Linked DNA regions of Homo sapiens. The protein of the gene in region 2 interacts with the protein of the main gene of each other region in a pairwise test. Each region holds a gene or a part of one and is shown on either strand. Other genes may lie near its edges.

Region 1 (3,190 bases), on a different chromosome or scaffold from region 2:
TTCCCTCCCAGGCTGTAATTCTACCTTTCTGCTTTGATTGGAATTGGTCCCTGCCCTCACGTTGCTGGAGGGAAGAAATGAGGGTACACAGGAATGCCAGCACAGAGCGCTTGACACACATGAATGGTACAGGAGGGAAGAGAATCAGGGTCCTAAAGAAAACCAAAGAGCCCTGGTCATACCCTTGCTCCTCTGAATTATGTGATTGCTTGTCCTCACAGGTGCATGAACGAGCTCATACAGGTGACCGTCCATACAGATGTGACTTCCCCAGCTGTGGAAAGGCCTTTGCCACAGGTAACCTGCCTGGTGGGCTGCTTCCAGTTGAGGGTGGAGGGTTCTCGTTCTGTTTGGGACCTCTCTGAAGGGAACCCAACACCAGGCTGCTTTCCTGGAGAAACTACCGTCAGAGTACTCTGACTTGCAGGGTGCTCTCTCTGGAGGAAACCTTGTTACGGGAGTGCAAGGCAGCATGGTTCAGGCCAGCAGAAGGAGCCTGGAGGGTTGGTGGAGAGACCCAGCCTCTTGTGTCAGCTCTGATGCCAACCAGCTGTGGATTATTGGGTGGGCCATTGCATCTCTCTGGGCTTATTTTCCCCTCTGTGAAACTAGTACCTTTAGCCATGAGTTCTCTAAGTTTCTTTTCATGCTCATGTTCTGGTATGGCTCCAACTGCTCCTGGAGAGGGAAGCAGGGCAGAGTGGGCTTTTCCAGCCCCTGCCCAGGGCAGGGGTGGGATAGAGGCAGACATGGGCTTCTTGAGCCAAAGGAGGTGGAGAGCCTGTGCATGAGGTGGACGGTGGAGGATGAGACCCCACTGGGTGCTCATCTCACCCCCTGCCTGCCACATATGGACAGGCTATGGACTGAAGAGCCACGTTCGTACCCACACTGGTGAGAAACCATACAAGTGCCCAGAGGAGCTGTGCAGCAAGGCCTTCAAGACCTCAGGAGACCTGCAGAAGCATGTCCGTACCCACACTGGTATGCTGGGCCCTGCCCACTCCAACCCCATTCCCTGGGCAAAAGGAATTCAGCTTGCCTTTCAGACTTAGACCTGGAGCCCAGTGCCATCCCCAGCTTGCTCCAGCATGGCCCTCTTTCCCACACCCCTCCTCACATCCCACCATTTGCATAGGTGAACGCCCGTTCCAGTGCCCTTTTGAGGGCTGTGGCCGCTCCTTCACCACATCTAACATCCGCAAGGTACATGTGCGCACCCACACAGGCGAGAGGCCCTACACCTGCCCGGAGCCCCACTGTGGCCGCGGCTTCACCAGCGCCACCAACTATAAGAATCACGTGCGCATCCACACAGGTGGGCTAGCTGGCATGCGAGGACTACCCTCACTCAGGCCCCAACCCCTCTACTGTAGGCTTCCCATCTAAGACACATTCCCAACTCCCAGCCCAGAACCCTTCTGTGCCAGCCATTCCAGGCTGGTCTGGGGGTAGGGTATCCCCAGAACAACTCTGCTTGCAGTGAGTAATTCCTCAATTTCCAGTTAGGTCCAATCTGAAAGGTATTGCCAGTCCTCTCTGGGGTCCCTCAGCTCCCTACCACCCCTCTACACCCACCCTGAGTTCTCCAACTCTGACTGAACTCTTGAAAAGAGGCCAGGGTCAGGAATGATGGGGAAGAAGCAGAGTGAACTGTCACCTTCAACTCCTCACCTTATCCGCCGTCCATGACTCCTGTGTATCCTCACCCTCCCCAGTGTTATGCCCCTCATCCAGCTTTCTGTGTTGTGTCTCAGCATGTGTGTCCCCTCTTTCCCATCACAACTGATACTTCAGTCATCCTTGCCTCTTGCCTCTGCTGTTCACCATTCTCAACCTCCCACCCTCAACCTTATAAGCCCCAGTGCCCCCTACCAGCCCCTTCACTAGCCCCAGCCTTGCCCTGTCCCCCGTTTCCTTTCCGCCTTGTCTCTGGATTCAGTGGTTCAACACCTGTGTCCTCTCTGTGTTCCACTGGCCATCTTCCCCAACCCTGTCCATTCAGAGTCTCAGGTCTCAGTCCCTCTCCCTCCCTCTGGCTCTCCCTTCACCAACCCTGTCCCTCACCCCTGTCCCCTTAGTTTCCCCCTTGCCAGCCCCAGTTCCCACCCCCCTCACAGCCCAGTGTCCCCAGGGGAGAAGCCATACGTTTGCACGGTGCCAGGCTGCGGGAAACGCTTCACCGAGTACTCGAGCTTGTATAAGCACCACGTGGTGCACACACACTGCAAGCCCTACACCTGCAGCACCTGCGGCAAGACCTACCGGCAGACCTCCACCTTGGCCATGCACAAGCGCAGTGCCCACGGCGAGCTGGAGGCCACGGAGGAGAGCGAGCAGGCCCTCTATGAGCAGCAGCAACTTGAGGGTAAGGGGAGTGGGCAGAGGGTGAGAGTGGGGACAAGCCAGGCCTCCCCATGGCATCTGGTAGCAGATGTCAGCCTTGGCTCTCCTCTCCCAGCCGCCTCTGCAGCCGAGGAGAGTCCGCCACCCAAACGACCCCGGATAGCTTACCTTTCGGAGGTGAAGGAAGAGAGAGATGACATCCCAGCCCAGGTGGCGATGGTGACTGAAGAAGATGGGGCCCCCCAGGTGGCTCTGATCACTCAGGATGGTGCCCAGCAGGTACAGGCCCTGGAGGGCAGAGGTGCCATACTAGCTGGCACTCTCCACTCTCTCTGGGGACTCTGGGAGCCCTGAAGTTCTGACAGCCCCACTGCCACCCAGCTTCTTGTTTAAGTTTTATAGACTTCAGAGGCTGAGGCTGAGGAGACCACATCTTGCAGCACAGCCTCTCCTCCTCCTGTGCTTCCAGCTCAGTCTCTGGGGCTTCTAGAGCACAGTTAGTAGTTTCTCTCTTTACTTGGAGGCTGACAGGTCCTGTTCATCTGAACAGGATATGGGATGTCCTTCTCAAGAGAGGCATGTTCATATAGCAGCCAGAACATGGTATGGGGTCTGAAAGCCTGGGGTCTGGTCCTACTAGTGTACTAGCTAGCTATATAACCTGACCCTTGTCCGTACCCTTGCTAGAAAGTACATCTGTGCTTTCTAGAGTTGTTAGGACACAATCAGGTGGCGACCCTGAGCTGGATACAACAGGGCCCAGAGGCAAAGTGGTGATAAATAGAAGTAGTCAGTGGAATTCTTCTAGTGTGGCCTCTCTTTGCAACCTTGGACCCATTTTGTT
Region 2 (3,815 bases):
TGTTGCAGAAAGACTTGCCACCCTGCTGGGGACTGTCCCTGCCCCCTGACCACTTCTGGCCTGCCTTACACTCGATTATTTTGGGCAAAAAGTGCAAATCAAGACTGAGATGTCAGGCCAGGTGCAGTGGCTCATGCCTGTAATCCCAACACTTTGGGAGCCGATGGATCACTCAAGCCCAGGAGTTCAAGACCAGTCTGAGTAACATGGCGAAAAAAACCTGTCTTTACAAAAAGTAAAATAATTAGTGAGGCGTGATGGCATGCGCACACCTGTAGTCTCAGCTTCTCGGGATAGTCACAGCTACTTGGGAGGCTGAGGTGGGAGGATCACCTGAGGCCAGGGACACAGGTACATCAAGGCTGCAGTGGGCTGTGATCACACCACTGCACTCCAGCCTGAGTAACAGAGTAATACCCTGTTTCAAAAAAAAAAAAAAAGAAAGAAAGAAAGAACAAACAAAGAAAAAAAACAAAAAGGAAAAGGAAAAAGAAAGAGAGAGAGAGAGAGAGAGATAATCCAGGACTTTTTTTGAAGGGAGAGGGAAACAGGACTGTCTGACACGCGGGAAAATTGCTTGAATTCTCCAGCCTTCCCATTTGGATGCTTTTCTCTTTGCGTGAACACAGCCATAAGCTGGCTCGTTATAGAGGCATAGGCAGTGGTTGAAAATACAGGTCCTAGCAACAAGGAAGTCTGGGTTTGAATCCAGACTCAGCCACTTTCCAGCTGTGTGACCTGGGAGAAGTCACTGTTCCTCTCTGAGCCTGGAGCTACCTGCATCACTACCCTGAACTGATGAATGGAAAGCACTTGGTACAAAATCCAGCACATACTTGGCACACATAACTCACAGCTCGGTGTAATTAGAAGAATGCCAGGAGGACTGGCCTGCACGCTGGAAGGGGCTCTAGACAAGGCTGACCATCAGGATCCACTGGTTGGTCCAGAGATCTCGGAACAGACTGGTTCTCCCCGCCGCTTCTGCCTCCCACTCACCTCCACCCGTTCATGCAACTGTAGTTTTCTTAGCCCCTGAAACCGGGTTGGGGCTGCCGCAGGGGCCATCAGGCTGTGAGGGAGGCTGACGCGGACACAGTAGGTAAGAGGCCAAGATGTACAGTCCTGAAAGAGGGCAGGAGGCTGGTGACTCAGTGGGTGAGAAAATGCAAAGGCTGGGGCTATCTTAGCCCAGAAAAGGACAAATTTTTTTTCCCCAAATTATTTTCCTTCTTTTGTCTCTTTCTCCCCTCCCTCTCTCGCTCCTTCCTGCTTTTCTTCCTTTCCCTCCGTTACTTTCTTTAATCCAAAGGAAATTTAAGTGGAGGACATAAAAGCATATGCTGTTATTAATTTTTGCAAATGTCCTTAACTGAGAGGCACTGAGCAGAAAGAAGAACACAATTGCATCTCCATTATCTTCATCTGGGCCACCAGATACCAGCCACCCACTCTCTCAGACAATGGCAGAAAGGACAAGCCAGCCCCCAGGGACCCGGCCCTGCCAGCTTACCTGTTGGCACACCTCCCCTGAGCACTGCAGCCTCACCAACTGTCTGGGGTCCCTGAGACTGCCTGCTCACACTCACCTCTGAGCCTTCCTGTCTGCTGTTCCCTCTGCCTGGAACATCCTCTCCACTCCCCCTTAGACCCCCTCTAGCAGCTGTCCTGGCTGACTGCTAATTGGCTTTAGGATTCAGGGAGGCATCCTGCCTTGGGTGCCTTCTTTGATGGCCACAGATCAAGTTAGGGGTCTTCTCTGGCTGCTTATCCTCATAGCACCTGCTCCCGGATGTGACAGACAGCTTCAGTTTTGTCACCCTGTGGTCCAGCAGCTTTCTGAGGGAGGGCTGGGACCAGCTCTCATTTACCTGTGTCTCTCACCCCTGCAAGGTTCTGGCCACAGCAAGCAATGCCTAAGCACATATTTGTGGAGTAAAGGTATAAAAGACAAGGCATCCCAGATGGGCGTGGTGGCTCAATCCTAGCACTTGGAGAGTCTGAGACGGGAGGATCACTTGAGGGCAAGAGTTTCAGACCAGCCTGGGCAACCCAGTGAGACCCCATCTCTACAAAAAAAACATATTTTTGTTTGTTTGTTTGTTTGTTTGTTGTTTTTTAATTAGCCAGGCGTATTGGTGTGCACCTGTAATCTCAGCTACTTGAGAGGCTGAGGTGGGAGGATCTGTTAAGCCCAGGAAGTTGAGGCTGCAGTGAGTTATCATCCCACCACTGCACTTCAGCCTGGGCAATGGAGCAACACCCTGTCTCAAAAAAAAAAAAAAAAAAAAGGCAAGACATCAAGACATCCCTGGAGGAAGCCACTCTGTAGACCACAGGCTAACAGAGCATGGTTGAGCAGGGAGGAGTTGGGAGCTGCACCCAGCACCTCACACAATGTTATCATGGAGCTGGGGACAGAGCAGGTTCCAGAGCTGGGTTTGAGTCCCAGCTCCTCCGATGATGATATGACACCCCAGACATGTGCAGGGATGTCCTCTAAGCCTCAGCTTCCTCACTGCAATTTGGGGCTCTGTCTCTTTCTGGCAGGGAGTTATTGGGAAGACCAAATGAGATCATGTCCCCCTCCCAAACCCTGCAAGGCCTTTGCGTCACAGTTAGAATGAAGTCTACATATAGCCCTGTCCACTCGCAGCCTGCCTCCCTTCCCCATTCGCACCCTTACACACGGAGCCCCCTCCAACCTCCCCCCCACACACACTGAGCCCTGTGCTCTTTCCTCTGCCCAAATGGCCCTTCCCTCAGACATCTAGATGTCCATCCTCCTTCCCTCAGTCTGCCTCTCGGAGCAGTCTTCCCGACCACTACAACGATGCCTCCCCAACCCCGGCCTGCGTCACTCCCCACGCCCACCCTGCTTTGCAGCATCGCTCCCTGGCTGACATTACATCATGCATTTATTTCTTTGCTTATTGTCTCCCTCCCCTCCATGAGGGCAGGAACCTTCATCTGTCTTGTTGACAGTAGCATCCCTAGAACCTAGCTCAGGCCTGACTCACAGTGTGTGCTCAGTCCACATTTGGGAAACCAATGGAGAGATGAATGGCACAGAGATGCGCTCAGGAACCCAGTTCCCTGACCTCCCATCCAGGCTGCACCCCTCAGGAGTCTAGGTTCCTGCTGATTGGTAGAGTTCAGGACCCAGGGCTGGAAAGTGTCCACCCACAGGGCAGATGGGCCAAGGCCACGTGCTCAAGGTGTGCAGGGCTAGGAGAGGGGGTCAGCCCCAGCTCCCATATGAGGGGCATGTGCCTCGCCTTGCCCCTGCTTTGGCTAGAGGGTACCCTGTTCACCAGAGATGAGCCTAGGCTCTCCCCGGGCCTGGCTCTGGCTTTACCCCAGAGCCCTCCAACTCGCAGACCTCCAGGCAAGGAGGGCTGGGGACCCACCCGTACCAGCCATTTGCCTTTTCTCCAGTAACAGAGCCCAGAGGGGTCCCTGCCTGGGCCCAAAATCACACAGCAGATTGGGGTAGAGCCGGAGAGGACCCGAGACTCCTGTGCCAGCCTGGGCATCCCCTCCACTGCCAGGGAAGGACTGCATCCAAGTCGCATCCGTACCCAGGCCGAGGTGTCCGAGGCCCAGGCTGAAATCCGGTTGCTGCTGCAGAGACCAAGTTTCCAAGGCCTTGTCAAGTGGGCTGTGCCAGACGATCCCCAGGCCTGTCATTGGCTGCTCTTCGGCTCGGACACACCAAACCTCACCAAGCACTTCCATTTCTGAGGGAATAGAGGTTGTGGCTTCCGTCAAGCACCCATTTACCCCACCCTCCTCCTCCTCTTCCTGCAAACTTG

The links.
Region 1: the proteins of GRAPL (region 2) and ZNF76 interact in binary tests that used the Homo sapiens proteins (3 or more experiments, as listed by UniProt).

What each region holds. Positions count from the first base shown.
Region 1 is NC_000006.12:35,290,420-35,293,609, forward strand, and holds part of ZNF76 (zinc finger protein 76), read left to right. Parts: intron 1-221; coding exon 222-297; intron 298-858; coding exon 859-984; intron 985-1,138; coding exon 1,139-1,318; intron 1,319-2,120; coding exon of another isoform or gene 2,121-2,134; coding exon 2,135-2,368; intron 2,369-2,461; coding exon 2,462-2,625; intron 2,626-3,190. UniProt on the Homo sapiens protein: May be involved in transcriptional regulation.
Region 2 is NC_000017.11:19,154,881-19,158,695, forward strand, and holds part of GRAPL (GRB2-related adapter protein-like), read left to right. Parts: exon of another isoform or gene 1-3,438; coding exon 3,439-3,496; 3' UTR 3,497-3,815.